Linked DNA regions of Homo sapiens. The protein of the gene in region 1 interacts with the protein of each later gene in a pairwise test. Each region holds a gene or a part of one and is shown on either strand. Other genes may lie near its edges.

Region 1 (3,600 bases):
ACTCCTAGTTTTGCTGAGTCCTTTAAGACGGCTCAGTTGAAAAAGTAATAGTGCCAGGGCTTAAACCCTCATCTCTAACACCAAAGCCTAAGCTCTTCCTGTTAACAGTACATAAAATTCAAACCCAAACCACAAAATTGCTGGGGAAAAAAAAAAAAACTAAAACTTCTTTAACCCACCAACTACACAGAGGATGATCTTCCGAAGTTCTCTTCCTTACAACTCATCACATCTTTTGAATGGTATTTTAATAACTAGCATTCTATTTATTTTCTATTCTTGGTCCATTGTACCACCTTACGAGAAGTTAAGAGTAATCTAAAATTTAAGGTAGGTCTCTAAACTATCAACAAAACACTATTAATGTACCTAAAATGAAAACTTGCGAATTCCAGGGCTAAATGATTCAAACAAATGTTAATAGAAAAGGAGGGCACCAATCTGACCATTAGCCAATTTAAAAATTTACGCATTACTTGTTATACATAATCAGGGCAACTTTAAGACGCCATTCCAGGCAGATTTGGGGTAGTAGGCGGCTGGCTTTTAGCTAACTCTGCTTAGCTGCGGGGTAAATGTCAAAGGTCAGCCCCATGGCGAATCTCCCTAAGCCCCCTGTCGCAACCGAAGCCGATGGAATCAACAAGACAAAGATGCTCCTGACCCACTGGCTAGAATCGTGAAGAAAACGCTAATCCATGTCAAATGCACATAAGGAAATTTTTCCATGCAGAGACCAGACAGGGGAAAAGGGGAAGGGAGAAGGAGAAAATACAGGGTTCGACCCGGGCCATCGGAAGACAACCAAGCGCTGACTTGGGGGTAAGCCCTGGACTAGGGGCCTGTAGACCAGGTTCGAGCGCTCACACTCGCTAACTGCGGAGCCTTGGCCAGCCTCAGTCTCCGAGTCTACAAAACAAGGATAATCATAAAGGGCTCCCACCCGCCTCACCGAGGGCTGTGAGGCTCTTCCGAGACAGAGGACATGGAGCCATTTCGTAAACCGGAGCGCACGGTACAGACAAGAAACTGTTATCCGGCCCAGCAGCTGCGAGACCCCCGAGCGGAATGCAAGTGGACCCCAGGCAAAGAGGACAGCAGGGGACGGAGCAGATCTGGCCAAGTTGTCCCGTCCCCGCCCAGAATCAGCCCCGCGGCCCCACAGAACCGCCTGCGTGTCACTTCCCCCCCACCCAACCCCGCCAGGGCCAGCCTCCGCTCCGACCTCCCCGCCTTCCGTCCCAGCCCCTCGAGCCCCAACTCCCCTCCCCGACGCGACCCTCAGACTCACGGCCTGAGGGGCTCCTCCGGCAAAACAGCGGCTGGCTCGGACCCTCCCTCAGAGCACACTAACCAGCAGCACCCGGGACCGCCAGCTACTCGCCGGATGTACGTCACACCCCTCCCCGGGACTTCCGGGCGCGTAATGGGCCCCGCCCCCTCACAGCGTTACGCCTCTCTGCCCCGGTGCCGTCCCACCAGCGACTCGGGCCGCGGAGGGGCGGGCATAAGGCGTGACAAAGCGCGCTCGGGGTCTGGCCCCGCCTCGGCCCCGCCTGCTCCCGTCTGGCTAGCTGACCGCGCGAGACGTGGCAGCGCCGGAACCCTGGGTCCGGGGCTGGGTCCTGGAGTCCCTGAGCGGCCTGGTACACTCGGGATCGCGGCTTCCCATTCCAGACGCACCAGGAAAGTCAGAAGTGGGTACCGACGGTGACATAGGTCCTGGGAAAGATGAGTTGACCTTGGGGCCCTCCACTTGAGGTGGATCCCTCCAAGCTTTTGCTTTTTTTCTTCCTTGCTTTTTTTTTTTTTTTTTTTTTTTTTGAGGCGGAGTCTCACTTTGTCGCCCAGGCTGGAGTGCAGTGGCGCGATCTCGGCTCACTGCAACCTCCACCTCCCGGATTCAAGCGATTCTCATACCTCGGCCTCCCGAGTAGCTGGAACTACAGGCGCATGTCACCACACCTGGCTAATTTTTTTGTATTTTTACAGAGACAGGTTTCACCGTGTTGGCCAGGCTGGTCTCGAACTTCTGACCTCAAGTGATCCGCTGGCCTCGGCCTTCCAAAATGCTGGGATGAGAGGCGTGAGCCACCGCGCCCAGCTGCTTTTGCTTTGAGTCGCACTTCCTTGCCCTGGGGTGGCCTATGTTTTAGAAAAACAGAAAAACAGCTAATATTTATTGTGCACTTATGTTCCAGGCAGAGCACTGGGTACTTTGCACGCTTTGTCTAATTTCACCGTCATTGGAGTCCTGTGACTCCAGATGCTAGTATTATCCTTATTGACAAATGAGAGAGCAATGTTCAGAATAACCTACCATGCCCAAGTTCACACAGCTAAGTGGCAAAGCAACGTGTTCACCCCAGTATATTTCGCATGCATTTTCTCATTTAATTCTCAGGACAGTCCCACGAGATTGGTACTATTATTACTCTCATTTTACAAATAAAACAGTCTAATGGAAAGATGAATGACGTCTGTGGGTTCATGAAGATCTCAATTCTCCTTTAGTAAAATTTAAATTTAACATAATCCCAATAAAAGTACTAATAGGATTAATAGGTCGTGTGTGGTTTCGTTCTTTTTTTTTAATTACCCTATTTGTTCCTAAAATTCGTATAGAAAACCAAACAAAACTAGTCCAGAAACAGGCTTTCAAAATGAAGAACAAGGAGGTGGGAACTAACCCTGTTGGATATTAAAACATATTATAGAGCCTAAGTTATTAAAACTGGTGTGCGTGCACATGCACAAACACACACACACAAAAAACACAATGGAACAGAGCAAAGTACAGAAATGACTAAAGTACATGCAGAAATAAAACTAAAGTAGCACCTGGGACTCCAGCAATACTCAGGGAGCTGAGTGGGCAAGCTCACCACCCTCTACCCTCCGCTCATCCTGGGGTCTTAGATGTTGAATTTGAACCCTGTCCTGTCACAGAAAGGTGTCAGGCCACTTCTGAGGCTTCTCACCAGCTTTAGCTAAACCAGGGACAATGTGTCCATGGGGCTTGGAACCCCTTGTGCATCCTGGAGACACAGATGCAAGCCCAGTGCAAGCCAACACATTGGATTACTGGCTTTGTTGAGAGCCTGGCTGCACGAGGTGGAGGTGTCTGAACCACAGGATGGCTTGGGAGGCTGGGGAAGGAGGGAACATGCAGGCAGATTCTCAGAAAAGCCGCAAACTCTACTTACCTAAAGGCTTGAGCAAGTTGACGAATGCCCCAGACCACCATGTACCCACTGTAAAATGGGTGAAACAGGCATTGTTGTGCACATAGTTTTTCCAGAGTACTGTTTTCAATAAATGATTCTGTTATGTGTTGTTAAATAAATTAATAAATAATAAAAGGGGTTGAGACAATTGGGTAGTCAAAAAAACCTACAGGTTGAATCTCCAAAAGTTTATTACTCTAAACAAGTTTCAAGTGATGAAAAGATGTGTGTATTTTGAAATGACACTATAAAGGTACTAGAAAAACAGAAGAAAGCATGGATTCCTTATAATTTTGCAATGAGAAGACCTTTCTGGGTATGATTGAAAATCTAGACCGGGCGTGGTGACTCATGCCTGTAATCCCAGCGCTTT
Region 2 (3,772 bases), on another chromosome or scaffold:
GAGATAGATACAAGTATTTGGTGTTTACAACAGAGAAATTCACTTTATTGTGGAAGAGAAGTAGCTCATCAGGCTTATCTACAGCCTGGATGAACTATTCCCTCAAGACCATGTGATTCCCAGGTACCTTGAAACTGCAAAGGAGATACTATGGATTGCACAAGTGACCCATGCACTGGAAAAGGCATAATTTTAATGGAAAAAAATCACTGCCCCAACATTCTGCTTGATATATCAGTCCTGTGCACGGTTTTAAAAATGAGTCACTTTATAGAATATCATTACCTCTGACAGAAAATTCAAAATTCTGGCCAGGTGCGGTAGCTCATGCCTGTAATCCCAGCACTTTGGGAGGCCGAGGCAGGCGGATCACCTGAGGTCAGAAGTTTGAGGCCAGACTAGGCAACATGGTGAAACTTCGTTTCTACTAAAAATACAAAAATTATCCGGGCATGATGGTGCATGCCTTTAGTCTCAGCTACCTGGGAGGCTGAGGTGGGAGGATCACTTGAGCCTGGGAGGTGAAGGTTGCAGTGAATTGAGATTGTGCCACTGCACTCCAGCCTGGGTGACAGATTGAGACCCTGAAAGAAGAAAGAAAGAAAGAGAGAAAGAGAAAGAGAAAGGAAAGGAAAGCGAAAAGGAAAAGTCAAAATTCTGTATCTGGATTTCTAGAATTGAGAACCAGACATTGGACATTGATGTCCTCACTAAGAAAATGATATTCTAGTTGAAAAAAATAAAGCTTACATTGCTATCTCTTTTTACTTCCCCATTGCATATTTGTTGGCTTGTTTTATCTTTGCTGTAAGACTGTTGTCTTCTGGAGGATAGCTACTGCTTAGTCATGGTTGCATCTTCCACAACATCTAGAACAGAAAACATAAATGTTTCTGCAATAAAAGAATAAATGAGGCGTGGATATGTTCCCCCTACTTTCATGTGGAGAAGTTTACTGATCAAATGTAGCATGTACATAAATCACAGAGTATTTAAGAAACTGGCTGATCAAGCTGTTGGCTTTCTTGATGGCTGATTGACCAGTCCATCCCTGACTTCAAGGGCTTAAGTGCCCAGGCACTAGTTGCTAATGCTGCAGTTAGAGCTAAAGCACTGGCCTGGTCTCTGTCACTGTGACTCATCCTCTTCTAAGAATGGCTCTATTTTCTTCTACAATACTTAATTCAATGTTAAGCATTGTTGGCTTGCCGAATTGGGCAAAAACTGAATGTCTAAGATGAGCCAGTTGGTATTTCAGTTTAGAACTAGGAAAGCGCAGAGTTTGGGGAAACTTTCCAGAGGAGAGCCACAGCTCAAACCCAAGGTAATGCTAGAGATCCCTGAACATTTGTGCACTCTGATCTCTGGCTACCTTACAGAGTGAGGTAACTTACTTTCTTCTTCCTTATTCCTTAGGGCAAGAATATCACGGCATGGGCATGAGTAGCTTGAAACTGCTGAAGTATGTCCTGTTTTTCTTCAACTTGCTCTTTTGGGTAAGTGTATCTCTTCTGAGCACGGTTTAGCTCACCTTTACCCAGCTAAGCTCTCCTCATTCCTCTACTGAAGAGGCTGGTGTGGGGTAAAATGCATGCGTGTTTGGGTCATGTCCAGCACAACCATCCTAGAAACAAAAGAGTAATAATTTTTCCCCTCTTCCTGCCACAGAATAAACCTGCAAAATTGAAAGGTACCAGTGCAGTTATTAATGGAGGTGCTGTTTCTCTCTGAGGGCTTTAGTTTACTACTACTCGTAGCTAACATATATAGGTGAGAAACCTGAGACTGTGCTCTGGATATTGAGTGCCTCTGTTTTTCTTGTCTTTTTTTCTAGATTCCTTGAAACAATAAGTGATTGAAAGGAAAGTCACCCTTTCCAGGGAGGTTTCACTGTATAAAATTCAGCAATTGAATTTCAGATATAGGATGGGTTGGTACTTGTGTATATGAGAAGATTATTATAAGTTTGGCTTCTCTAGTTTTCTGCCTAGCAAGATGAGCTTCCTCAAGCAGGGCATCTTCTCTACATGGTCATGGTTTCTACAGAGAAAGCCATGTGTGAGCGACTGAAAAGATAAGGAAAAAGAAGTTAGACCTATATATGGTGAAGATACTGTGTGGCTCACAGAAGTGATCTTTCCTTGGTATCTGGAGATGGGTAGGAAGAGTTGTGAGTAGGTCTCCACATGAGAAAGCTGAGATTGCCTCTCCAATGTAAGCATGGAAAAGTTTGGTAAAGAAATTGTTCATGAGACTCTTGATTGAGCCAGTTAAAAATAAAGTGATTCTGATCTCAAGGAAGTGAGAATATGAGGAGATACCCAAGAACCACATTTTGCTTCAGGATGTTGTGGGATTCTTCCTTTCAGATCTGTGGCTGCTGCATTTTGGGCTTTGGGATCTACCTGCTGATCCACAACAACTTCGGAGTGCTCTTCCATAACCTCCCCTCCCTCACGCTGGGCAATGTGTTTGTCATCGTGGGCTCTATTATCATGGTAGTTGCCTTCCTGGGCTGCATGGGCTCTATCAAGGAAAACAAGTGTCTGCTTATGTCGGTGAGTCCTTACAGCAGATGTGGTGCCCCAAGTCGGGGAGATGGTGCCTAAATCCCAGGCAAGATGTTTCTTGGTAGATCACTTATAGGCACAGAAAGATCATAGGAAAATGAGATTGGTACCTCAGATCAGCCAAGTCTGCCCAGACCAATAGTATATTATGTATGACTAGGGTCCCACGGACAGGTGAAAGAGGGCATTGCTATCCCCCTTGTAGCCATTTTTATATTGCTAATAATGACTTTTGTCATTATTGTAATTCCCCTTTATAGCATTTTATTTTTTCTTTATGTCTGGATGAAATCAGGTGTCATCCATCTTCCAAAATCCTCCTCATGCTAGCTATTATTATGTACTTTCAGATTCTGACTGAGAGTCGCTAACTAATGGAAAATAATTTCTAGGCTCTTTCCTCCCCAAATGCCAAAGGATGCTTCCTTAACTCATGTCTGCACAAGATACTCCGTAGAGAGATCCAACTTAGGTGAGGGCTCTGGCTGCAGCCATTGAGGTCTAATGTGAGAGATGCTACAGCCTTTTGCATGTTCCCTATCAGGTACTATCCTGAGGAGTACCTTAAGGCTTAGGTTTTGCCTGTAAGCACAGTGCCTGTAGAGCACTGAGCTCTACATTTCTGTAGTGTTCCCAGAACAGAGCTTGGTGTAACAGTGCCACTCTACCAATAGGCGTGGGTTTCTAATCACATTGGTTCTTCCTTAAATCATTTGGTTAATCTTTTTTCCATTATGGTTCAACATTTTGGTGGTGGTTTTTTGTTTTGTTTTTTTCTTCTTGTTGTTGTTTTGGAGATGGAGTTTCACTCTTGTTGCCCAGGCTGGAGTGCAATGGCATGATCTCAGCTCACCACAGCCTCCGCCTCCCGGGTTCAAGCCATTCTCCTGCCTCAGCCTCCCGAGTAGCTGGGATTACAGTCATGCGCCACCATGTCCGGCTAATTCTGAATTTTTAGTAGAGACAGGGTTTCTCCATATTGGTCAAGCTGGTCTCTAACTCCCGACTTTAGGTGATCCACCTGCCTCGGCCTCCCAAAGTGTTGGGATTATAGGCGTAAGCCACTGCGCCCAGTCTGTATGGGTCAACTCTTAAACTGGAGCCAAGAGAAAGAATTTTTTAAAAAGTCCCTCTTCTCAGATAGTTGTCAGACTAATGGCAAAGGATGGAAGATAGCAGACATGGGGTAAGGCAAATGTTTT

Evidence for each region. Proteins that work in one complex are often made in the same cells at the same time.
Region 2: the proteins of SAR1A (region 1) and CD53 interact in binary tests that used the Homo sapiens proteins (3 or more experiments, as listed by UniProt).

Annotation. Positions count from the first base shown.
Region 1 is NC_000010.11:70,169,122-70,172,721, forward strand, and holds the start of SAR1A (small COPII coat GTPase SAR1A), read right to left. Parts: upstream 1,394-3,600; 5' UTR 1,292-1,393; intron 1-1,291. UniProt on the Homo sapiens protein: Small GTPase that cycles between an active GTP-bound and an inactive GDP-bound state and mainly functions in vesicle-mediated endoplasmic reticulum (ER) to Golgi transport.
Region 2 is NC_000001.11:110,889,976-110,893,747, forward strand, and holds part of CD53 (leukocyte surface antigen CD53), read left to right. Parts: intron 1-1,416; 5' UTR 1,417-1,433; coding exon 1,434-1,496; intron 1,497-2,369; coding exon 2,370-2,558; intron 2,559-3,772. UniProt on the Homo sapiens protein: Structural component of specialized membrane microdomains known as tetraspanin-enriched microdomains (TERMs), which act as platforms for receptor clustering and signaling.